Regions from separate parts of the Homo sapiens genome. Here all the other regions are linked to region 2. Evidence: fine-mapped expression QTL. A gene starts in region 2. Each other region holds a variant in brackets. All regions are shown on one strand. Distances are from middle to middle. Region 1 overlaps PTBP3 (polypyrimidine tract binding protein 3). Region 2 holds the start of PTBP3 (polypyrimidine tract binding protein 3). Region 3 overlaps PTBP3 (polypyrimidine tract binding protein 3).

Evidence for each region.
Region 1: its variant is fine-mapped to the expression of PTBP3 in cerebellar hemisphere (GTEx, PIP 0.96).
Region 3: its variant is fine-mapped to the expression of PTBP3 in whole blood (TOPMed, PIP 0.98).

The regions. Positions count from the first base shown.
Region 1 is chr9:112,208,065-112,219,240 of GRCh38, reverse strand. It overlaps PTBP3 (polypyrimidine tract binding protein 3), which reads left to right. Exons shown (of 14, transcript NM_001163788.4): 14 at 1-806. Among named protein-coding and RNA genes, the nearest start is that of SUSD1, 38 kb to the right of the region's middle. RefSeq lists an enhancer at 38-87. The variant G/A (reference allele first, on the strand shown) is at 5,730.
Region 2 is chr9:112,331,635-112,342,062 of GRCh38, reverse strand. PTBP3 (polypyrimidine tract binding protein 3) reads left to right here and starts at 8,444. Exons shown (of 14, transcript NM_001163788.4): 1 at 8,444-8,593. RefSeq lists a cis regulatory region at 4,271-4,284, enhancers at 4,205-4,349, 4,028-4,527, 7,400-8,370 and silencers at 8,120-8,439, 8,590-9,079.
Region 3 is chr9:112,229,587-112,234,586 of GRCh38, reverse strand. PTBP3 (polypyrimidine tract binding protein 3) reads left to right here. Exons shown (of 14, transcript NM_001163788.4): 9 at 2,349-2,488; 10 at 3,174-3,207. Among named protein-coding and RNA genes, the nearest start is that of SUSD1, 57 kb to the right of the region's middle. The variant G/T (reference allele first, on the strand shown) is at 2,873.

The DNA.
Region 1 (11,176 bases), 120 kb after region 2:
ACCAGTTATAAAGATTGCTGACCAAGCAAAGTTTTGCATCAAAGTGTCACCTCATTGCTCTGACCAAAGACTGACTGTTGTGGTTTTAACTCCTCTCTGTAAAGCATTTTGCATTTTCCCCAAGCTCCTTTCTGAAAGAAGAACCAGTGCAGAGCGGCCTTTACTTTCAATTTCTACTGCTGAATAGACTACTTAGAGAAAATGTGAGTTTCAGTGTGAACAGAATGGATTAGGATGACGAGTTTGATGGGCATTTTCAGTACTGTATCTAAGAAAAAAAAAATAGCACAGCTAGGAGCCTCTGACATTGTCTGGTGTTTTACGTGGTCTGTTCATCAAAATTCCCCTTTTCAGTTTTTAAGAATGTTCGTCTAACAGAAGAAAATGCTGTAAATATTTGTAACAACATTTTTTTTAACAAGGCCAAAAAAGAAAAAAAGGTTTTTGGGAACAAATGAACTTATAAAGTGGTTTTATATAAAACATCAATTGTCTTGTATATTTTGGATAAGCAGCAGTACCAGCTTTCATTTGTAACAGTCTGTGGCATTGGAAAAAAAGGAGTCTGTGATTGTTGAAGTGAATTATGTTATAAATGCAAAGAGAAGATAAAATATTAAAAAACATATTTTCTAAATGCGTAGTGCATGGTTAATTCAAGCTTCTGTACACTACAGTATATTCCATTTTCGTTCAGTTTGTATATTTGCTGACTATTACTTGATATCTCTAATCTCTTTTCCTAACAAATATAGCATTGTAGCATGCCTTTTAATAAATGTCATGACATCTGTACTCTCTTAAAATTTTTCTGTGTTCTTGTCTGTACTTTGGGTTTCCCTTTGTCTTACCTGTAATTCTAATGATGTCCTATTTTCTTTTCTTTTCCATAGCCATCCATCTAAACGTGTCATGGTTAGTGAATAGTGAGCACATATTCAAACAATGTTCAAAATGGGAAAAACACAAAATCTATTAACTGTCTCTGTCTTCATTTAGGAATAATTCTCGTTTTGAGGAGCAAAGTGCTTTCCTAATCTTCCTATGATGCACCTTCTCTGGCACTGCCCCGTAATGCAGGGGCATGGCGGCATGCTTTCTTGCTTGCACACTCACTCTCCTTTTTCTTTCTCTCTTTCTCCCCATATGTGCAGTGCCAAACTACAGTTGGAACACTATTTCCAGTTTTGTTCAGTATTTGGCTTCCCTACGGCATTAGTATACATACACTTTGAGACACAAGGTGTGATCTCAAACCAAATTTGTGTCCTCTTTAAAAAGGTAGCACAGATACTAGCTGATGCTACATTCCTTTTCCTTAGACAAACGTTTTACTTCTCAGATCTTTAAAGAATTGTTGGATTGCAGAAGTCTAGACTTAGCGTTCATTGTATATTTTAGTCTCCTGGAAGTGGGAATTTATTTTGAATGGAATAGAAAATTAGGTAATCACTACTAATCTTTGCTGGCTTACCTGTAAAATCTGTGGTCTCCATAAATACTGGGAAAATAAATAGGTATTTTTACATGAGGCATTTTTATCAGGAAAAGATAAAATAACTGTATGACTATATTAGGCTTTTATAAACTCGATTGACTGTGAAATGCTTATTTACTCAGCAGAGGGGTTATAACCATCATTAAGTCATGTCAGTGACCCAAGAGACCACCTAGTTCAATTTCCAGTTAACAGCAAGGAAGCCCAGGTCTCTGTGACTTGGTCCAGTGCACTCTATTGCACCCAGGTGTTGCAGTTTCAGACTTCCAAGTGCTGCTAAGGTTATGATCTTGAAGATCTGTACACAGTATTGGAGTGCTTATGTTTTCTCCTAAAAGCCACATGATCATACCTCACTGCAACGTAAAGACATTGAGTAAGTGGTGAGAATGTTTCTGATGAAGGGTAAAAATGCCTTATCTACTTCTGAAAAATTTTTTAATGTCGTTTCACATTTTAAATTTCAGAAAACTAACAAAAAATGTAGTTACTGTTTGTATGAGTTTGCTAGGACTGCCATAAAAAAGTCCCACAGACTAGGTGGCTTAGACACCAGAAATGAGTTTCTCACAGTTCATGGAGGCTCGCAGGCCACGATCAAGGTGTCAGCAGTGTTGATTTCTTCCAATGCCTTTCCTTGGTTTGTAGATAGCTGTCTTTTCCTTGCGCCTTCTACAAGCTCGCTCTTCTGAGTGTGTCCATGTCCTAATCTCTTCTTATAAGGACATCAGTCAAAGATGAGGGCTTACTCATATTATCTCATTTTACCCTAATTCCTTAAAGAGTCTGTCTCTGAATGTGGTTACATTCTGCGATTCTGGGGATTAGGACTTCAACGTAGGAATTTGGGAAGGGGGACACAAAATTCAGCCCCATAGCACTGTTTTATTCATTCAGTTCACCGAGTACTGATTGTACCAGCACTTGAGCTAGGTGTTGGGAAAAATATAGAGTTAAGCACGTGGTGACTTACCTTTTAGAAATGTGTAATGTAGTAGATATGTCAGCCTAAATCCACAAATTAAACACGTTACTTTTGAACTCCTGCCTTCAATAGGAATCCCCAAAAATGGATCATGAGGCCTCTCTGAGGCACTTCTCAGAATACATATGGCTATAACTATCCTACAGCTAGTTGTGAATATGTAGGAATATAGACCCTGCCATAATTTGTCCTTTTTACTCTTAGAGATAAATAGCCATATCAGAGCAATGATTATTTCTAAGACAAATGCCATTACTTAAAAAAACAATTGTAGAAATAAGAGGACATCGTCAGACAAGCTGTGCCCAGTATTTAATGTCTAACATTTGTGATAAATGAACTGGGATGCTGGGTTAGGTATAGTTAGGAGTGATAGACCTATTTGTAGTCTTACTGTTTCTACATCAAAGCTTTTTTTCCTGTTGTCTATTTCAACCTATAATGGGAATTCATCACTTTCCTTTGTGTGTTTTTTATCAAAACAGTTTATGCTGAAGTGATAAAACTCTAGTAATAATTTTGCTGGAATTACCACATTCTGGAGCCACTGGGTTCTGATGTAGAGTTTCCAACTCTACTAGTATAAAGAAACCAGAAAAGTAATGATTCTAATGTTCCTAGCAGATTCATAATGTCTATTTTTTTATTTTTCTTTCTGTTTTTGTTTTGTTTTGAGACAGAGTCTCACTGTGTTGCCCAGGCTGAAGCAGCCTCAAACTCCTGGGCTCAAGCCTTCCTTCTGCCTCAGGCTCCCAAGTAAGTGGGACTACAGGTATGTGCCTGGCTAAGTTTTTTACTTTTTACTTTTGTAGAAACTGGGTCTCACTTTGTTCCTTAGGCTAGTCTTGAAGTCTTGGGCTCGAGCGATCCTCCCTTCTCAGATTACAGTAGGAAGCACTGGGATTACAGGGGTGAGCCACTGTGCCCAGCCTTCTCAATTTTTTTACCCCTATATTTGTTCTAAGGATATAGACAGGGTAACAGGAAAAACTCAATATTTCTTTTGGAATAAATTGCCCTCTAATCACTTGATAAGCATCTCTATCATTATTCTGTGCCTAAAATTAGAGAATTATCTGCTCAGTCCTTATTCCTGCAGAATACAAATGTCACATTCTAACCTGTTAAGAGATTGTCTTCAAAATAAAACTGTTATTAACTACATTAATGTTAGACAAAGTACACTTTAGGGCAAAAGGCATTATTAGGGATAGATTTCATAATGATAGAGTTCTATAGTAGAATATAGTAATGCAACTGAACAAAATGAAGCTCATTCCACTGCATGGAAGAATCTCACAGATGTGATGCTGAACAAAGGAAGCCACGTACAAACACTATATAATTTTATGTACATCAAGTTCAGAAACAGGATAGTTACCTTTGGGAAGGAGGTAACTGAAAGAGTATGAGGAGGGGTTTCTGGTATCTGGTTAATGTACTTTGTACCAGTTACCCAGGAGTGTTTCAAAAATTATTATAATTGAGCAAGGAGCTAGCAACCAATTCTTTTCTTAAGTCAGCAGATTATTCTAGCCAATAAGTAAGGCCCTCTTATAAAGAACCCAAGATACCATGGACTGAGTTTCAACATGAAACTCTTACATGTGCATATATTGCATTGTCCTGACCACGGCATATCTACAGGAAAAATATTTCACTGACCAAAAAAAAACAAACAAAAAAACATGTTTTCAAGTAAATTTTACCCTTCCGAACAGTTTTACATCCAACTAGATTCAGAAAGATTTAATTAATGTGTTTTAGTTTTGGTTTTGCCACTGTAACTGATCTGGTGAGCTGTTTGACATCTAACCCCTAATATATTTCCCTTTTATTTTTTGAGACAGGGTCTCACTGTGTTGGCAAGGCTGAGTGCAGTGGGGCCATCAATAGCTCACTGCAGCCAACCTCCCAGACTCAAAGCAGTCATCCCATCTCAGCCTCCCAAGTAGCTGGGACTATAGGCACCCACCACCACACCCAGCTAATTTTTTATTTTTTGTAGAGACGAGTTCTCACTATGTTGCTCAGGCTAGTCTTGAACTCCCGGACACAAGTGATCCTCCCCCCTCAGCCTCTTGAAATGCTGAGATAACAGGAGTATGCCACTGCATCTGGCCTCCTAATATATTTTATCAAAAGAAGCCAGAAAGACCTACCTAGATCTCTAGCATCCTAAGAGAAGACTTTATAAAAGTTAAGATTTTTTTTTTTTGAGACGGAGTCTTGCTCCATTGCCCAGGCTGGAGTGCAGTGGCACAATCTTGGCTTACTACAACCTCTGCCTCCCTGGTTCAAGCAATTCTCCTGCCTCACCCTCCCAAGTAGCTTGGATTACAGGCATGAGCCACCACGCCCAGCTAATTTTTGTATTTTTTAGTAGAAACAGGGTTTCACCATGTTGGCCAGGGTGGTCTTGAACTCCTGACCTCAAGTGATCCACCTGCCTTGGCCTCCCAAAGTGCTAGGATTACAGGCATGAGCCACCACCTGGCCAAAAATTAAGATTTGTAATACACAAGTATTACTATGATGAACTCCCATTTACCCAGTACCCAACTGCAACTAGTGGCCAATTTTGTTTAATCTGTTCTTTACCCCACTCCTAGGATTACTTTTAGTTTTTCATTTTTATTTTTTGAGACAGAGTCTCTCGTTGCCCAGGCTGGAGTGCAGTGGTGTGGTCTTGGCTCACTGCAGCCTCCACCTCCTGGGTTCAAGCAATTCTGCCGCAGCGTCCTGAGTAGCTGGCATGCACCACCACACCTGGCTATCCTAGGATTTCTTTTAAATCCCAGTCATCATATAATTTCATCTGTAAACATTTCAGTATAGAAGTCCATACATTGCAGTTGATAAAGGCTTTTACAGGTTCCCTCTCCATCCTTTTTTTTTTGTAATTTATTTGTTGAAGAAACAGCTCTTTGAATTTTGCCAATTACATGTAAATCGAGAAGAGCTCATTCAGATTCTGTTTTCTCTCTTCTTTCTCCCTGCCTCCCCTTCCCCCCTACCTTTTTTTTTTTTCGTAAGAATACTTCATTGATAGCGTTGGATACTTCCATAATGTGGCTTTTCTTTTGATGGCAGTATCCATTGATCATTGCCTAGATCCATTAATTTTTAGGGACTGCAAGATGGTAAAGCTATAATTCTAATTCCTTTTGCTTGTATTAGTTGGATTTCTTCTATATAAGAGAAACCCCCATATCAGCTATTTCATTACTTTGAGGTACAGCTTCT[G/A]TAGAAAGGCAAAATAAATGCTTGGGTTTTTTTTGTTTCCTATTCTCCTCCAAAAGTTTGCCTTTTTCTAAAGCCTGTTTTTATGGAAACACAAACATTTGTAAAATTGAAAGACTGATATAATGAAACTTTGTTTCTGTCACCTAACTTACGTGATTCATATTCTGCGTTGTATCTTCTATACTCCTGCCCCTCTCCCTTTCTACTGGGTAGATTATTAACTATTAATTTATATAGTAGTTTTCAAACATATTGGTTAAAGTTTATAATGTTTTTAAATCTCTGCCTTATCAGTAATTATATCTTCTTGTTTTTGGAGGGATGAGGTCTTGCTGTGTTTCCCAGGCTGGTCTCAAACTCCTGGCCTCCCAAAGTGCTGAGTATGCAGAAGTGAGTCACTGCACTCGGCCTATACCCATTTTTATTTTTGTTTATATTTACTATTTATTTACTTATTATTTGAGACAGAGTCTTGCTCTTTCATCCAGGCTGGAGTGCAGTGGCACAATCTCAGCTCACTGCAATGTCCGTCTCCCAGGCTCAAGCAATTCTTGTGCCTCAGTCTCCCAAGTAGTTGGGATTACAGGCGTGTACCACCACGCCTGGCTAATTTTTGTGTTTTTATGTTTTTAGTAGAGACGGGTTTCACCTTGTTGGCTAGGCTGGTCTCGAACTCCTGGCCTCAAGTGATCCGCCTGCCGCAGCCTTGTAAAGTGCTGGGATTACAAACGTGAGCCACCGCGCCCAGCCTGTATATCCATATTACTGTTTTTCAGTTGTGCCTTTTCTCCTTTTCTTGAGCCATCTTGCAGAAGTATTTTCAAATAACCTGTTTTTCATGTGTTTTGATCCTCCGCAATGTTTGTTTTTTCATTTATTAGTGTTTCATTTCATTTTTAACTTTATTTTATGCTTCTTTTATACTTCTTATTTTGTGTGACTTGATATGTTAATCATAGCTGTCTTAGATTGCCTTATATATCCTATGAATTTTCAATGCACATTTATCCTTTATGACAGAAACAATATATATGAACTTGAGAATGAAATATAACTAGGTAGGAACAAAAACTTATTTAGGTAGGAATTACTTTGAAAAAAACACAAATGTCTGCATGCCATACTACCCTGACTGCACCCGATCTCATCTGGAAAAAATGCCAAGGTTTAGGATTGTCCTGATCGCTCCCTCACCCCCATGCCTCTTATTGCTGTGCTTTAGTGTGGGCTGATTTGACAGATATATGCATTGCCAGAGGATCCAAAGTTGTAAAAGTCTAGCCATGCCATCAAGGAACATTATAATAAAGATGGAAAGCACTGGTATGTCCTTTCTTGCAACATGGACTAGCTTGCAAACTAAATCTAAATAATTTACCTGATTTTTTGAGCATCTAATGTTTTTAACCATCTCTCAATATGGTCCAAGAATAGTAGCTACCAGCCCCAGATTTTCTAGAACAGGCAGACTATCCTTGTATTTTCAGAACACTTCCAGTTTTTTTATTCAAAAAATAGTTCTTGGCTGGGCACGGTGGCTCATGCCTGCAATTCCAGCACTTTGGGAGGCCAAGGCCGGCAGATCACCTGAGGTCTGGAGTTCAAAACCATCCTGGCTAATATGGTGAAACCCTGTCTCTACTAAAAATACAAAATAGACAGGTGTGGTGGCTCACGCCTGTAGTCCCAGCTACTCGGAAGGCTGAGGCAGGAGAATCGCTTGAACCTGGGAGGCAGAGGTTGCATTGAGCCAAGATCGCACCACTGTACTCCAGCCTGGGTGACAGAGCGGGACTCTGTCATTTAAAAAAAAAAAAAAAAAGTTCCCAGGGCTGCAGAATTAACTGTTAGTTTGTGTGCTTGGTCTATGATGTTAGCTCACTGTTAGAATGAATTTATTCTAAATTCTTTTAAATAAGGGCATAAAGATTGAAGAGATTACAGGGTTCTAGTGACAACCCCTATTTAGTAAGAAGCAGGATCTTCTTTATAAGAAATAAAATACCCATGCAGAGACCAGCATACAGTAGATTATCTGTTGAATATCTGCCATTTCCTTTCAGCTGGTAGGAGCTTCTGACGGAACCAGCCCCAGATTCTTTCCCCTGGCAGTCCCCATGACAAAGCCACTGAGCTAGATCATCATTGATAGAACCCTAGTGCTTGTAGTGACTTGGTGGCAGCCATTGCGTTAATACAGACCAACACCTTCTCTAAGCCAAGCTGCCATCTGATGAATGAAATACCCAGAGAGCTGAACATATACAGAAGGAAAATGGAGCCTTGCCTCAACCTACAAAAACATCTGCTGTCTATATAGGGCTTCGGGAATTCAGTGACAAACTCCAACAGCACAACTGTATTTGAGCGTATGGATTCATAGATCCATACCCTCACCAAAGTTTATTGTCTCTGACCTGTACATTTGTGTGATAACCATAACTTCTTCCATCATGTTCCCCAGAAGCATAGATTGCCCATATATGGGCAGTCCCAAGGAGGCCAAAATAGTTCCGTGTACATTGTATTAGTTTACTAGGGCTACTGTAACAAATTACATACAACAACCTGGGTGGCTTAAATAATAGATACTCATTTTCTCACAATTCTGGAGGGTAGAAGTCTGAGATCAAAGTGTCAGTCAGCAGGTTTGGTTTCTTCTGAGGCCTCTCCCATTGATTTGTAGATGGCCACCTTCTCCCTATGTTCTCACGTGGTTGGTTATCTTTTGGTTTGTGTGAGTCTGTGTCCCAATGTCCTCTTAAAGGATACCAGTTATATTGGAGTAGGGCCTGCCCATATGGCCTCATTGTACTTTACCTCTTTAAAAGCTCTATTCCCAAATACAGTCAGATTTTGAGGTACTGTGGACTAGGGCTTTGGATTTGTCAGGGTTCTCCAGAGAGACAGAACAGGTAGGATAGATAAATAAGTAGGTAGGTAGGTAGATATAATTGGTTCATGTGATTGTAGGCTGATAAGTCTTAAAACAGGCCGTCTGCAGGCTAGGGAGGCCAGTAGGGGGTGGCTCATTCAAGTCTGAAGGCCCCAAAACCCAGGGAAGCCACTGGTCTAACTCTCAGTCCAAGGCCAAAGACCTGAGAACCCAGGGGGCTGCCGGTGCAAGTCCCAGAGTCCAAAGGCCAGAGAATCTGGAGTTCTGATGCCAAAGGACAGGAGATAAAATGGTGTTCTAGCTCTAGGAGAGAGGAAATTTGCCTTTCTTCTTGCCCTTTTGTTCTATCCAGGCCCCCAGACAGGCTGCTGCAGCCAAGAACATCCCCTCACAGAGGGCTTTCGTCCTGGGAATAGCAGAACCACAGCTTTTCTCATCCTGCTCGTAGCCACCTGTTGCTGAGGCTCTCTTATTCCACCCAGACCCCACTCATGGACTGGAGGCTTCCTTAGGCATGACATGCTAAGATAATGGGGCCTTGGTCCTGGCTTGCGAGGTGGTGGTTCCATGGCAAGAGAGGCAAGCCGAGAGGACCCCAGCTGCTCTGCACTGACAGAGGCTCTCTCCTTACCCAAACTTTAGTCAGGCTTAGAAACTTTTTTTTTTTTTTTTTTTGAGACAGAGTCTCACTCTGTCGCCCAGGCTGGAGTACAGTGGCGTGATCTCGGCTCACCGCCACCTCCATCTCCCAGGTTCACCCCATTCTCCTGCCTCAGCTACTTGGGAAAGTAGCTGGGACTACAGGCGCCTGCCACCACACCTGGCTAATTTTTGTATTTTTAGTAGAGACAGGGTTTCACCGTGTTAGCCAGGATGGTCTCGATTTCCTGACCTTGTGATCCACCCGCCTCGGCCTCCCGAAGTGCTGGGATTACAGGTGTGAGCCACTGCACCTGGCCAGGCTTAGAAACTTTTTTAGACTAGGCCTCATTCTTGGACCTTGTCCTCAAGAGCCCAGTTTTAGCAAGAATCCTGGCAGTTTAAAAAGAATCCCCTTGACCCTTTATATCTGATCAACCTGACCTGACTTAAGCAAGAATCCTGTTTGGTAAATGTAGCAAGAATTTCCCTTACCCTTCATTTCTGTCTCCTCTTAGTAATTTTCCATCTACTGACAACCCTTCTCCAACTTACTCCTTGCCTATAAATCCCTACTTGTTCCTCGTGAGTTTGTAATTGAGACTGATCTCTTCTATCTCAATAATTTTTTTTTTTTTTTTTTTTTTTTGAGAACGGAGTCTTGCTCTGTCACCCAGGCTGGAGTGCAATGGTGCGATCTTGGTTTACTGCAACCTCTGCCTCCTAGGTTCAAGTGATTCTCCTGCCTCAGCCTCCCAAGTAGCTGGGATTACAGATGCCTGCCACCATCCCTGGCTAATTTTGTATTTTTAGTAGAGACAGGGTTTTACTACGTTGGCCAGGCCAGGCTGGTGTAGAACTCCTGACCTCAAGTGATCCACCCACCTCAGCCTCCCAAAATGCTGAGATTACAGGCGTGAGCCACTGCGCCCAGCCTCAATTATCTTGACACCTATCGGGATCATTCTGAAGAAAGTCTTCTTTCTCATCTTAACAAGTGTCAGAATAATTTTTTCTTTAACACCTCCCTCACAATCAAGGGCTTAGCCCCTAGAGTGGGGATGTCACTCAGAGAGAAGCTTACCATCGTTCCCTTTCCCAGCTCCAGTGCCCTGGCTCAGAGATTGTACCTGCGGGGAGAAACCCACCATAAAACAGATAGCTTTTCATCTCTTTCAGAAGGAATTTAGCTTATTGCAGCAGAGTGAATAATTTCAAGTCTAAAAGCACTCTCAAGGTCAGTGAGGTGTGATAAAAGGCAACTGGGAGAATATTCAAGATACAGGTTAAACTGTAGAAGGCTGGTTTGCAGGAGAGAACTGGGAATAAGATAGCTGGAAGAATCCTCCTGGGGTCAGAATAAAAATCAAACACTGACCTAAAAAATTGTTCAGTTGAAGAAGCCAGAATTCAACTGTATAAATTTTAGAGCAGTTTGTGCTCCCAGGGTACTGTTGAAAACACTAGAGCAATCATCTGATAATAGTATGGTTTTAGCAGGTAGGTGGGGTCAGTGAAAAGAGGAGGAGAGACCCACCAAACCCACTGATTCCGGAGTGACTGTGGGCATACCCAGTGCTGTACCTCCTGAAGGAACAACATTAGTGGCTAAACACAGTTTGGAGAAAAGGGACTTCACTAAAATAATCCAGTCGTTTACTACATAAATAAGCACATTATAATAAGCTCCAGAGAAGGGGGGACCAGCAACCAGAGTTACTACAATATATGATTTTCAATATCTAGTTTTAAACCAAAAATTACAAAGCACAAGGAAACAGGAAAGTACAACCCAAACAGCAGAAAAAAAGCAGACAACAGAAATTGACAGTAAGAGGAACCAGATGTTGCATTTATCAGAAAAGACTTTAAAGTAGCCATTATGAACCTGTTCAGAGAACTAAAAGGAGCC
Region 2 (10,428 bases):
CAGCCAATTGGATGATGCCTGCCCACATTGGGTGAGGGCAGATCTTCCTCATTCAGTCCACTGATGCAAATGCCAATCTCTTCCAGAAACACCCTCACAGCACACCCAGAAATAATGCCTTACCAGCTATCTTGTTGTCTCTTAAAGCAGGCAAGTTGACACCTAAAATTAGCCATCACAGGGACCTAGTCATTCTAAAGGAATTCAGGGAAAACAAACCAAACCAAATGTGGATATTTAGCAGAACTATGTAAAGAATTTTGTGAAGTTTCTGAGAGAAAGCACACCTTACTTGATGGCTATCTACTTATTGGAGTCACTTCACAGTCACTTCCCACTTCACCATCCCCACCAAGTAATTGAAAGATGAAACAAGAATATAAACCATTGATATCTAGACCTACAAGTGACTTAAAAACAAAAACAAAAAAAATCAATAACGCACAGAAAAGCTGAGATGAGATTTGTGAGCCCTCAACTCACACTATTCTTTAGTAAGCTGCAGATCAAAGTAGTACTGCCATCATTCAAAACAAAAACAAAAACAACAACAACACACACACACACACCCAACGAAAAACAAAAACACTTTTCTTGCCGGATACAAACAAGGGAATAAAATTCTACCAGAGGCCAGGCATGGTGGCTCATGCCTGTAATCCCAGCACTTCAAGAGGCCGAGGCAGGCGGATCACTGGAAGTCAGGAGTTCGAGACTAGCCTGGCCAACATGGTGAAACACCATCTCTACTAAAAATACAAAAATTAGCCAGGCATGGTGGTGTGCACCTGTAATCCCAGCTACTCGGGAGGCTGAGGCAGGAGAATCACTTGAACCCAGGAGGTGGAGGTTGCAGTGGGCCGAGCTCACACCACTGCACTCTAGTCTGGGCGACTTGAGACAGACCCTGACTCAACAAACAAAACAAAACAAATTCTAGCAGAGATCTTGCCAAAAACAAAAACAAAAACAAAAAACCCCACAAGAAATCCAAACCAAAACAAAAACACCCAAATGAAGTAGAAGAATATAATATGTAAAAACATGAAAATTACACTTTTAAAGAGGAACAAAAACGGATAAGAAGAAAACATTAGACAAAATACTTCTTTATCCTCTTTGGATAATTAAATATGGAGTCCATGAAACAAGAGATTTTATTTTATTTTATTTATTTTTTTTTTTTGAGACAGAGTTTCGCTCTTGTTGCCCAAGCGGGAGTGCAATGGCGCGATCTCGGCTCACCGCAACCTCCGCCTCCCGGGTTCAAACAATTCTGCCTCAGCCTCCTGAGTAGCTGAGATTACAGGCGTGCACCACTACGCCCGGCTAATTTTGTGCTTTTAGTAGAGACGGGGTTTCTCCATGTTGAGGCTGGTCTCAAACTCCTGACCTCAGGTGATCCACCCGCCTCAGCCTCCCAAAGTGCTGGGATTACAGGCGTGAGCCACTGCACCCGGCCCTAAACAAGAGATTTTAAAACATAGATAAGACAATAACATGACATTTTAAAAAAGCTGGCAGAACAAATGAAAGAGAAGAGGAGAAAACAAAATTATTATGTTATTTAAAAACACGTTAAAATAGCAGGGAATCAAACTAATACTGCAGAAATCTGAACTATGATTGGAGAGAATAGACTTGAGAAAATCATATAAAATATTAAGAAAAAACAAACACAAGACATTAAAGAAAAATATGTAATAGAATGAAGATCTAATAAATAACGAATTGGTAATGCTGAGGAAGAATATAGGGCAAGTTTACCAGAAATACAAATTTAGTATTAATACAATAAACAGTTTCAGAAACAAAAGGAAGATTGTCTTTGCAAGGCACAAGCTGTTTCACATGTTCAATTAATAAAATATTGGCTGCCTATTATGTAGTAGGCATTGTTCTGGTTGCTAAGAACACACCAGCAAAAATTAGCCAGGTGTGGTGGTGGAACATGCCTACAGTTTCCGCTACTCAGGAGGCTTAGGTGGGAGGATCACCTGAGCCTGGAAGGTTGAGGCTGCAGTGAGCCACGATTGCACCACTACACTCCAGCCTGGGTGACAGAGCGATACCCTGTCTCAAGAAAATAAATAAATAAAAAATAAACATGTTTAAATAAATATGAATTTTTATAACATTTAGTGTCATGGTTATAATCCTGATAGAAATTTATATCATTTAAAAATTGGGCTGGGCAGGCAGGGCATGGTGTCTGACACCTGTAATCCCAGCACTTTGGGAGGCTGAGGCGGGCAGATCACCTGATAAGTTAGGAGTTGGAAACCAGCCTGGCCAACATGGCAAAATCCCATTTCTACCAAAAATACAAAAATTAGCTGGGTGTGGTGGGGTGTACCTGTAATCCCAGCTACTTGGGAGGCTGAGGCAGGAGAATCGCTTGAACCTGGGAGGTAGAGGTTGCAGTGAGCCGAGATCATTCCACTGCACAGCAACCTGGGTGACAGAGTGAGACTGTCTCAAAAGAAAAAAAAAAAAGAGTGAAAAGAAAAAAAATAAAAATGGCAAGTAAATAAAGGTAAAGAAAAAAAATAACAACAATCCAAGAGATTTACTTCTAAGTGGGGTCTGGGAGACTTCTAGGTTAAGAAATTCATCCTCAGGATAGAGAGTGGGGGACAACAGTTTTAAGGACAAAAAGAAGTCAATTTTAAAGGGCAATGATGATTCTTAGATCACTGTAGTGATTATCATTCAGATTTTCTTAGCCCCTTAGGATTCACGCCTGTATTTTTTTTTTTTTTTTTTTTTTTTGAGACAGAGTCTTGCTGTGTCAGGCAGACTGGAGTGCAGTGTCACGATCTCAGCTCACTGCAGCCTCAACTTCCTGGGCTCAGGTGATCCTCCCACCTCAGCCTCCTGAGTAGCTGGGCCTACAGGCATGAGCCACCACGCCTGGCTAATTTTTTATATTTTTAGTAGAGACGGCATTTCGCCCTTGCCTAAATCTTAAAGGATGATTTTCTGTGAATTTAAATAAAAAAGGCTGTTTCATTAAAAATTCTGGGAGACACTGGAACCTAGGTGATATAGTATGACAAAAAACAGGGAGAGGAATACTCCCCTTTTCAGAAAAGTGCTCCAGAAAGCCCAATGCAACTTTGGCATGGGCTGGCAAATTATACTATAGGACAGTGACAAGGGACAGCACCTTCAGCATAGACATGAGTCCTCTGTGCCAGGCACTGGCCATATTAAGAACTTCATGTGGAGATGATTACATCAGGGCCAGGCATGGGATGACAAAAATGGACGTGATTCATAGCTGCTGAGAAGTCAGTGAGCATGTAGGAGACACTTACATGCCGCCTCTTCAAATAGTTGGGAAGGACTTTGAAGAAAGGCTCATAATTCAACAGACTGGGCAGAGTCGGTCAGAGTCAGTGTGTGTCAGCTGTTACAACCTTATTTGACTACCAAGGTGATACAGCCTGAAAACTATAAATTATACTCACATGCCATTTTGCTTAAGCCTTTGATGTTTGTTATTGTTTAATTATTGAACAAATAACAACAAATATTAAGGGAACACTCAGCCAAGGTTTCTTTATTTTGAAATAATTGTAGATTCACAGGAAATTTAAAAAATAAGTACAAAGAGGTCCTGTGTACCCTTCAACCAGTTTCCCCCAATAGTAACATCTTAGTAACTGTATTACACTATTAAAAGCAGCACACAGACACAGTGCAATCCATAACTTCTCTTCAGATTTTGTCACTTTTTCATGCATGTGTTTATCTAAAGTTCTATGCAATTTTATCATGTGTAGATTTGTATAACCACCCCATAATCAAGACACAGAACTGTTTTATTACCACAAATATCCCCGTTCTTACTCCCTTGTAGTCACAGTTGTCTGTATCCTCTTCCATCTGCTCCCACCCTCTTCCTAATCCTTGGTAACCACTAATCTGTTCTCCATCTCTATAATTTTGTCATTTTGAGGATGTTATAGAAATGGAATCATACAGCATGTAACCTTTTGAGATTGGCTTTTTTCATTTAGTATAATTTCAGATGTTTCTGTTTTGGGAAATGCAATGTTAATTATGATGATTTTGTATTTGTCATGGGATAGAATGATATTAAAATGTCCAGCTTCCTAGATTCACCTAATAGCTGGTATTATTTCTGACTTATTTGGCATCTTTGTATTATTTTATATATTAAGAAGTCTTACCTGTAAACAGAAATAGGGTTATGTTGGTTAAATGTTAACTAACCACTGCCTACTGGAATGCCTTAAGGCAAGTGTTCAAAGGTTACATGTTGTCCAAAGATAATCGTGATGGGGGTGGTGTCTCTCATCAGAAAAAGGTGTGTCAGGGGAATTTCTTAGTCAAATCAGAACAAAAACACAAGAGAAAATGTTAGAAAAATTATAAACTAAATTATTTGTATCTGTCTTCCTTTTCAAAGCACAGAGCAATTAGCAAATAGAGAAAATGTAACTCTCTTCACTATCAAGAAGCCAGTATATAGAACCCATCAGTTTCAGGTCAAACCAGGTCATGTAGGTGATATCTGAGATATCTGATTCCAGAAACTTCTGTGGAGATGATAGAAAGCTGTGGCTCTTCCACATCATGTAGGCTATGGGAACAGTTAGGTTTCTCAAAGTGGTTCTTGAGGAGCTAAACTCTATGCTACCTACTATTTTTGAATCAAAGTGACTCACAAACCCATGGAGCTTAATCTATAAGTTCTTTGAATTGGCCAGGCACGGTGGCTCACGCCTGTAATCCCAGCACTTTGGGAGGTGGAGGCAAGCAGATCACTTGAGGCCAGGAGTTTGAGACCAGCCTGGCCAACACAGTGAAACCCCATCTCTATGAAAAATACAAAAATTGGCTAGGTGTGGTGGTGCACGCTTCTAATCCCAGCTACCAGGGAGGCTAAGGCAGGAGAATTGCTTGAACCTGGGAGGCAGAGGTTGCAGTGAGCTGAGATCGCGCTACTGCACTCCAGCCTGGGTGAGAGAGCAAGCCTCTGATTCCAAACAAACAAACAAACAAACAAAAAGTTCTTTGAATTTAGAACCAAGGGGCAGGGGAAAGAGTTAAGGCTTCACCTTTTTTGTTGTAAACTGTTTTCTGTTTTCTTATATCTAGGCTTCTGTTGTAAAGCTGGACATTGAGTATTTAGGAAATGCCAAACAGTTTTGTTAATTTCAGTCAGGTGCACTGTTTTTACATTGCAGACTTCTCGGAATTATTGTTAGTATGAACAATAAATTTCGGACACACTTTATATTTACCTTTATTTATTGAGATGGGGTCTTCCTGTATTATTTTTTAATATTGAAATTTGGAATAGCAAAGATAGGGGTCACGCTCTGCTATTTTTTAATATTAAAATTTGTTAGCTTAAAGCAAAGGGTAAGAGAGACATAACTTTAATAATTTATTTTTATTTTTATAAAAATATAGAGACAGGGTTTCACCATGTTGCCCAGGCTGGTCTCACACTGCTGAGCTCAAGCAATGCTGCCGCTTTGACCTCCCAAAGTGCTGTGATTTACAGGTGTGAGCCACCATGCCCAGCCAAATTTTTTTTTTTTTAAATAAAGAAACTGTAAATTGGTACAGCCTTTTTGGAATCATTTTCAAAAAATTTATCAAATTTGAATTATAAAGGCTATAAAGGCTTTATATAAAGGATTGTTGAATTATATAAAGGATATTAAGGCTTATGTCCTTTGTTTCTCAATTCTACTTCTAGGGATCTATTCCTCAGATGTAATAATATGTGTGCAAAGATACTCATACATTCATGATATTTTCTGCAATAGTGTTAGTTATTTTGAATACTTGGAAACAACGTAATTTCCACTGTTTTGGAAAAGGTTAAATTATGAAATGAAATTATGAGGCTGGGCATAGTGGTTCATGCCTATAATCCCAGCACTTTGGGAGGCCGAGGTGGGTGGATCACTTGAGGTCAGGAGTTCAAGAGCAGCCTGGCCAACATGGTGAAACTCTGTCTCTACTAAAAATACAAAAATTAGCCAGGCAGGGTGGCAGGTGCCTGTAATCCCAGCTACTCCAGAGGCTGAGGCAGGGGAATTGCTTGAGCCTGGGAGGCAGAGGTTGCAGTGAGCCGAGATTGTGCCACTGCACTCCAGCCTGGAGTCTCACTTTGTCACACAGGGTGGAGTGCAGTGGTGTGATCTCGGCTCACTGCAACCTCTGCTTACCGGGTTGAGATTCTCCTGTCTCAACCTCCTGAGTAGCTGGGATTACAGGCGTGCACCACCAAGCCAGACTAATTTTCCTATTTTTAGTAGAGATGGGGGGTTTCACCATGTTGGCCAGGCTGGCTTCGAACTCCTGACCTTAAGTGATCTGCCCGCCTCGGCCTCCCAAAGTGCTGGGATTACAGGTGTGAGCCACCATGCCCAGCTATAATCCAGGATTTTTAGGTGAAAAAAAAAAAAAAAAAAAAGAAAAATGGTAAAGGTCGCTGGGTGCGGTGGCTCACACCTGTAATCCCAGCACTTTGGGAGGCTGAGGTGGGTGGATCACAAGGTCAGGAGTTCGAGACCAGCCTGACCAACATGGTGAAACCCTGTCTCTACTAAAAACACAAAAACTAGCCAGGCGTGGTGGCGGGCGCCTGTAATCGCAGCTACTCAGGAGGCTGAGGCAGGAGAATCACTTGAACTCGGGAGGCAGAGGTTGCAGTGAGCTCAGATTGTGCCACTGCACTCCAGCCTGGGAGACAGAGCAAGACTCCGTCTCAAAACAAAAAAACAAAAAAACAAAAAAACAAACAACAAAAAAAAGTAAGGTCCAGAAGGATGCACGCAGAATTGTTACAGTGGTAGTCATGGGCAGGGGGTGGTTTGGGAAGAAAAATATTAATGATAACTTTTCAATATTTTATAGTGCTTGAATTTTCCAAAATGAGCATTTATGCTGATATTACTTGTGTAGCTAAAAAAAGGGTTAAGGAAATTTCATCAACAGAATATATCCCAAATACAGTGATAGAAAGACTGCATCAGCTACTTATCTTGTTGATATTCTACATTTCCATCTGGCAATGTTTACAAATGCAACTTAATATTTAGATTTAATATACAAAACAAAATGTATTTGACATTTTGGAAGGGGACTGAGGTTAGATACAGGACTTTAAGAATTACCTCACCGAATTACTCTACCTATTTGAAAAGTTGTATGTCAAAAATATACATAAACGGACTGAAGAATCCATTCAACAGTGACGGCTGGAACCTGATTTTCTTGTGTATTCATGCAGTGCCCGGCACATAGTAGGTTAATACTGACTGAATGATGAATGAGTCCACAGTTTAGATCTTTTTAGCAGCACCTACTGATCTGAAAGCAGGAAATTAGCAAGGATAGATGTTTGAGGTTCTTGTTAGTTGCTTTTCAAATGACGAAGCCACGGGGAGGAGCCCCGCTCTTTTTTACTCAGTAGGTTAAGAATTTGGCTTAACAGTTTAGGGGGTTACATTTTGGTGATCTGTGAGTTGAAAAAGTACTCAATTTCTCACTAAAAAGGGAAAAAAGCAAGCGTGTTGTCACTCGTTATATTATATATATACTTTTTGCTCAGACCAGAGGGAAGGGCTCTGGTGCAAACGTTTCCTGGTTGTGAAACTGTGAGCAAATCACTCTCTTTGTATATGTATTTTCATCTGAAAAAAGGGAATAATGAGTAAACTTTTAAAAAATGCTGGGAATATAGCCATTCCATGTTTGTACAATGAATTTTTCATATAAATTCAATACTAGACGGTTAGGTCGAAATGCACTCAGATACTTAAATTGTATACAAATTCCAGTCCGGGCAGCCTCTTTCACCTCATTCATCGTCCCAGCCACACCTATGGGGCTGGTGTCGGTCCCAGCGGTCGACTCCAGCGCCGGGCTGCCAGAGGCTGGTCCCTGGACGTGTCATCTACAGCCTCGCGCACCCGGGGCAATTCCACCTCGTTTCTGGGGTCCTTGTGGGACATTCCTTCCTACTCTTGGGAGTCAGGTCCCCATAGCTTTTCCTGCCGGCAGAGGGAGGCATTCAAACCTGGCAGGCCCGGTCTGCGAAGCCGGAAGGCCCGCGGGGCCGCGGGAGGGCGGGCGGGGTGCGCGGCGGAGCGGGAAGCACAAGGCGCGCGCTCCCGCGAACGCAGGAGGGAGGCTGGGGGCGCGCGCGCGCGCCGGGCCGAGGGGCCGAGAGGCGGGGTCTTACAGCGACCGCGGGAAGAGGGCGCCCCAGAGCTGAGCCGGAGGCCGGCTGCCAGCGGGGCGAGGGTGGGCGCGAGCGCAGGGGCGGGCCCCGAGGGAGGGCGGGGACGGTGAGGGGGCGGGGTCGGGCTAGGCGGGGACGCGCTCGCGGGGTGGGGAAGGCGGGGGCGCGGCGGTGGCGGGAGCGTGCCCGGTCCCCGCCCCTGTTCCCACTCTCCTTCCACCTCGGACCGGCCGGGGCTCCGCAGAGCCAAAGCTCGCTTGTCCCCGGAACCGCCCTGCTGCCGCCGCCTGCTTCCTCTGCTCGCGGTTAGCCCGTCAGTCCCTGCTCTGTGCGCGCCTCCATCTGGGCCATGGATGGGTAAGTACTAGGCGGCGCGGCGGCCGCACCGGGTTGCCTTGGCGCCGCTTCCACCCGGCTCTCCGCGGGACGCGTAAGGGCTGGGGAGCAGTGCGCGGCGCCGGCGGCCGGAGGAGCGGCCCCGGCCAAGCCCGACGGCGGGGCTTCCGGGCGTCTCGGTGGGGATCCCGGAATCGCGGAGTTGCCGTCCGCCGCAGGCTCTCCTTTCCCCACGCGGCGCCCCGGACACGTCCGCTGCTTCCTAGCCTTACTCGACACACCCGGGAGCAGAGGAAAGCCCGGTCCGGCCGCGGTGCCGAGGTCCGCCCTCCGCGCCCCGAGTCCGGGGAGCCCAGCTCGGCCTCCCGACACTTCCTCTCAGAAAATGGTGCGCGGCGCTGGGGGAGGCGGAGGCGGCGCGCGGGGCGGGCGTCCTCCTGCCGGGGGAGTTGCTGTTTACCGGCGAGGTGGGGCGAGCGGCCGACGGCGGGTGCACGCGTCGGTACACGTCTGGGCGGCGACCTGGTCGCAAGCCATGGTCCCACGCGGGGTCCCAGGGCCGCCGCGGGACTTGGCCGAGGTCTCCCGACTTGTGCTGTGAGATACGTTAACGCTTTCTCGACACCAGGGGTCTGGACTTAGTGACCATGGACGCTTCCCCCTCACCTTTCTCTCTCCCCAAGAAACTTAATGAATTATCTGCCCGTGTATGTAAAATATGATGTACGAGCGATTTTCGGGGGCATTTCAAATGCTCAAAAATTTAATGGGGGTCCGTGACCAAAATAAAAAGATTTAGAGTCTATGTATATAAACTGTTCTCTGGGGACTCAGGGATATGGGGTGGGACTTGACATATTTTGGTAATTAAAGTAACAACTATGTTAGGATTTTGGTGAATTAATTGAAGGTTGTAGTATCTGTACCTACGGATTAAAAAAAAATCTCCAACTCGGTTTATTCCCATTATGTATTTGAGGTTTTTTTTAGCTTGTTACCTACTTTTGATGACAAGATTTCTGTGAGGTTGTGGAATATATGCAACTTGCTAGAACAGTAAAAGTCGTTCACATGTTGCCATACAGTTGATGATATGCTATTTGAAGATGAAATCTTCCAACAGCTTTTGACCTCATTAGATTTCATTTATTTTAGTTTCACAATATTAAGTGTATATGACATTTCGGATTGATTCATTTGAATGCAGATTGCACACTGCTACAGACATCAAAGTGGAGTTTTAGATTTTATTCATGATTGTGATGTTCTTTATTTTTATTTGATTGAAGCTTCAAAAAATTTCTTAAAATTATAACTTTTTTGGGTACACAGTAGGTGTATATATTTTGGGGGGGAATTGAAGCTGTTTTTATTGTTTGATTGAAGTTTCTTCGAGAACATTGTTGAAAACTTATTTCACATTACCTTATTCAGTTGCATTTTATATGTTGAAAAATTTTGTGGTCGTAAAGATTTGTGTCACTAATATTTTGGTTCAGGCAGGCTGTGAATTTAGCATTTCATTATGTGTAGTTAATTGTCTGGAAGGTTTGACTTAAATAATGGAAGCAGGCTATTTTTTTGTGTCGTAAAATGTATAGTTATAATAAAGAGGACTCTTGAATTTTGCGTCTTTGCTGTTAAACTGTAGGATAACTGTGAAGTGCAAACTTACTTTTTGATAGTGTTTAAGAAGTTTACTCTCCCTTCACGCTATTTGTGGTTTTAAAGGTAGTAATGGGTTTATTGGTTTGAATATGCAAGGCAGTTATACAGATACTGACTGGAAGGTAAGTTCATTTGGAAGTTCAAGTCGGAGCATGATTTGCCCTTTGTATCAGAACCAATAACCATAG
Region 3 (5,000 bases), 100 kb after region 2:
GTTTGCTTTTGGCACAAATAACTATAGGCTAACTACATTAAATAACCTTAGATTTGCCTTTCCAGTTGTTATATAAAATGTATAAGCTGCTCTGTCTTTACTGATAAACTTATCAATTATGTGTTGAACAGACCTGTCTTATCTTTGGGCCTTCAATGCCTTTGACAGTACTCAACAAATAATATGCAGTCATACTATACATTCACTATTCATCTTTGGAAAACCTTTTGTCATTAATGGGTTTTGAAGATTACGATAGAGGGGTATGCATGCTGTTTATTTCAGGGGATATATATTTTGTCTCTTTAGCTAATGGAGGTAATTAAGAGATAGGAGTTGATTAATACGTTGATAATGATTCCCATTATTTTCAAAACAGTAAACAAAATGAATTTGATTATAATTTAAGGAAAAGAGAAAATGTTACTTTATGGTTTTATCTCTGGTGTCTAAAGAAAACACTGAGGTTGGTGATTAGGGGAATGACAGAGTTTGGTAAGCCTACTCCACATATTTCCAACTTAAACTGATTCATGACTTTAACTACATTTTAAATTGCAACATAGCTGCTTTCTGGCAGTAATCTTTATATTCTAACCTTTGAATTCTGGGAATTTTAACTACTCTCTCTCTCTCTTTTTTTTGTTGTTGTTGTGAGACAGATAGCTCACTCTGTTGCCCAGGCTGGAATGCAGTGGTGCAATCTTGTCTTACTGCAACCTCCACTTCCTGGGTTCAAATGATTCTCATGCCTCAGCCTTCTGAGTAGCTGGGACTAGAAGTGCATGTCACCACGCCCAGCTAATTTTTGTATTTTTAGTAGAGGTGGGGTTTCGCCATGTTGGCTAGGCTGGTCTCAAACTCCTGGCCTCAAGCGATTAGCCTGCCTCAGCCTCCCAAAGTGCTGGGATTAAAGGGTGAGCCACTGCACCTGGCCAATAACTACTCTCTTTTTGATGGAGAGGATGGAGTTAACAGAAAGAGTGATATGAAGGTTGAGGTTTTAAATTTTACCATCTTGGTGGTTTTTAGTATATCTTAACATATGTTTAATTAAGTGAATATTCTACCTATTGTGTTAAAAACATAGTTTATTTATTTGAAGCTCCTCAAGGTTTAACAATTGGTGGACATTTTGATATGTTTTCCCTCATTTTGGATATTTCTTTTAGATATACTCTATATATAAATATTAATTAATATTAAGAAAGATGAAAAGTGAATAAAAGAGGGCTTCTGACTTGATAAGACTTTTAAGCTGATAGAAGATACACACACACACACACACACACACACACACACACACACACACACCCTACAGTGTAGCTCAACTGTGCTCTTAGCTCATGAATAACAGACATACAAACAGCAAAAGTTATGCAAAAGTCAGGGTTGGACTGGAGGGGCATGGGAATATGTCATGTGAAGGCTATTGATTTCGTGCAGTAGTATTCAGCCTGAGAATGTGGTCTGCACAGTTTTAAAATTCAGCAGTATGGATGATGGTAGTTATGACCTTCTTAGATTATCAAGCAGAATAGGCTGAATGTAAAATATATTATAATTTAATTACATGATTTGTGGTGAAGTGGTCAGACTGTTTATTTTAAAGAGTCATTAAATTAAGGAATTGGTTCATTTTGCATAAACTAGAGGTTTTACCTTAGACAGGTTTTAAGCTGAGAACACAAAATAGTGGGAAAGTGTGCTGTTTTAAGTATAGTGTCAGTATTCTGCTGTTACTGAGCTTTCAGGATTTCCATAGTACCTAGAGAAGTAGAGAGCTCAGAACATTTCTGCTACAAAAGAATATTGAATTCTGTAAATATCTATTTTGGTCAGAATAATATTTAATATAGCATTTTATACAGTCACAAAATGTTTTTCCCATATAAAATGTCATATAGCACTACCTAGCATGCATGTTTTTGACTTTCTGCTGAAGGACTTTAAAAAAATACATATCTGATTTTATGGTAGAAGTCAGTATGAAAAGCATATACACTTGATAGAAGGGTGTTAGGATATATCTATTGTAAGAAACAGAGGGAGTGTTTGTAGTTGATAGACCCTCTGAAAAGCCTAATAGCGTTAGGCCCAGTGAGTTCAGTTACTCTGCAGAGTACTGTGTGGATAATAGAGCACTAAGTATAGTAATGTCAATAGATGAGGAGCTCAGCTTGCAGACAGACTCTGTAGGGCAGAAAACTGGCCTTCAGTATCTTTATGGTAGCCTTGACACATTTTCTTTCTGTAGTTTTCCTTTCCTCTTTATTTACTTAAATTGTATCAAGTGTTACAGTTCTTCAAATAATTAGAATATGAAATGCTTTTGGTATTTTTAAAAGGTCTATCAGTTCCAGCTGTTCCTGGAGCTCTTGGTCCTCTCACAATCACCTCTTCTGCTGTCACTGGAAGGATGGCCATTCCTGGGGCTAGTGGTATACCAGGAAATTCTGTTCTACTCGTCACAAATCTCAATCCTGATGTGAGTTGAAAAGTATTATATGTAAATAGTCTTTCAGGAGAAGGTATAGTAGCACTTTTTTCTTTCTTTCTTTTCTTTTCTTCTCTTCTCTTCTCTTCTCTTCTCTTCTCTTCTCTTCTCTTCTCTTCTCTCTTCTCTTCTCTTCTCTTCTCTTCTCTTCTCTTCTCTTCTCTTCTCTTCTCTTCTTTTCTTTTCAGAAAGGATTTTACTCTGTTACTCAGGCTTCAGTGTGGTGCTGCATTCACTCACTGTGACCTCTGCTTCCTGGGCTCAAGTGATCCTCCCACCTCAGGCTCTCAGGTAGCTAGGATTACAGGTGCCCACTACCACGCCTGGCTAATTTTTTTTTTTAATTCTTTTGTAAAAACAGGATCTTGCTATGTT[G/T]CCCAGGCTGGTCTCAAGCTCCTGGGCTCAAGCGACACACACCTCAGCCTCCCAAAGTGCTGGGATTACAGGTGTGAGCCACCATGCCTAGCCATGGTAGCTTCTGATCCAGGGTTGTATTCAAATTAAAATGCTTAAGTTTGTTTTAAGAACTTCTATTAAAATTCATCACTAGTATATACGGAAGAAGCATATAAAACCATGCTTTAAAATAAAATCAACTGCCATTACAGTATAAATAAACTTATTTTCAATTTTTACTTAAATTGTCAGACACTTAACTTTGTGTTACCCTTTACAGCTTATCACACCACATGGGCTTTTTATCCTATTTGGTAAGTTCATTTTTGCTATTTTATTATTGTCTACAGGTGTGAATTGAGCACATTTCACTTTTTTAGTAATATGTATTGATTACTTCTGTGTGCCAAGTATTGTGCTGACACTGAGGATAAAACAGTGAATAAGACTTAGTAAGTAATTACAGTGATGATTTATAGTATGGGAAATATAGGTTTTGTAAAGGGAGTGTAACGCAGGGAGACCTAACCTAGCAGAGGGACTCAATAGAAATGATAGTTAAGCTGACTTGTTCAACATGAGTAAGAATCAGCCAGGCAGAAAGGGAGGGCAATGTCTTCACAGGGGAGGGGAGAGGGGAGAGATGGGTCCTGGTGCATGGAAGTGAAGGAAGCCCAGTGGTGAGCATAGGCAAGCATAATGGAGACCTGGTGAAGGTGGACAGCTGCGTAGGGTCAAAATCGTGAAGAGCTGTTAAAAGCTTTGTTAAGGAATTTGGTTTTTACCTAAGAACAATCGGAAGCCATTGAATAATTTTAAGGCAAGAGAGTGGTATAATGCGATTCAGGTTTTAAAAATAGTCTCCAAACTTTCGAACAGCATAGAAATATGAGAACAATGAAATAAGCAATATTTACTATTTTAAAGATTTTTATTAAGGACAGTTTATTTTTCCATAAAACATGATTAACATCTAATGAGCAGTATGATTAATATGCTTTGATATTACTAAAAATCCTTGTTTTCATTTTGATTCAGTAATCCAAGGGTAGATTATTTCACTACTTGATTTTAATGGTTGTCATAGCTGAAGAAGATAAATCATAAATATATATAATCTAAATGCAGGGGTTTCATTGTTGCTGTACTTCAATAATTATTTCATTATTTTTTTCATGTAATCCACCAATTTTTGTCATGTTTTATCTAGAAAAGTTAGATTTTTTCCCCGTAAATCAGTGGATCTTGAAAACTGTTGTGTTTGAATATGTCTGACAAATAGAGTTAAAACTCACTGATATGCTTCATTTGTAAGATTTTTAAAATAAGATAGAAAACTGCTTCCAAATTTTTTGAATGTGATAGTTTTAGAGACAGGGTCTCACTGTTTCCCAGGCTGGAGTGCAGTGGTGTGATCATAGCTCACTGTAGTCTCAAACTCTTGGGCTCAAGCAGTCGTCCTCCCTCAGCCTTCCAAGTAGCTGGGATTATAAGTGCAAGCCACAACACCAGGCTGATAGGTTTTTTTTAATGGAATTTTTTCAGATGTAATTTACAACCATACAGTTTACCTGCTTTGGGTTTACAACTCAAGATTTTTGTAAATTCACAGTTGTGTGGCCATCACCACAGTCCAATTTTAGAAAATTTTCAACGCCCGAGAGAAATTCCTCATGCTCATATGCAGTCACTATAAAAGTTTTTATTAATGATTGATGCATGTAATTTTCAGTAATAAAATCAAGTATTAATAATACATTTTAATATGACTCTTTTCTAGCCAAAGCATGTTTCATACCAAAAGTAGTTAATTTCTCACTCATTTAAAAAATGGCTGGGTGCAGCAGCTCATGCCTGTAATCCCAACACTTTGGGAGGCCAAGGCAGGAGGATCAGATTGTTTGAGACCAACCTGGGCCAGATAGTGAGACCCCATCTCTACAAAAAATAAACACCCACATTTTGCAAAACAAATGGTATATGTTTAGTTTTTAAAGAATAGTTACATCACCATCGTGTTATTTCTGAGAAAGGTAGCAAATTCGGAATACTTGTCTCCATTTTAAATTTTTAAAGTGCCATTAGTATGATAATGATGTAACTATTG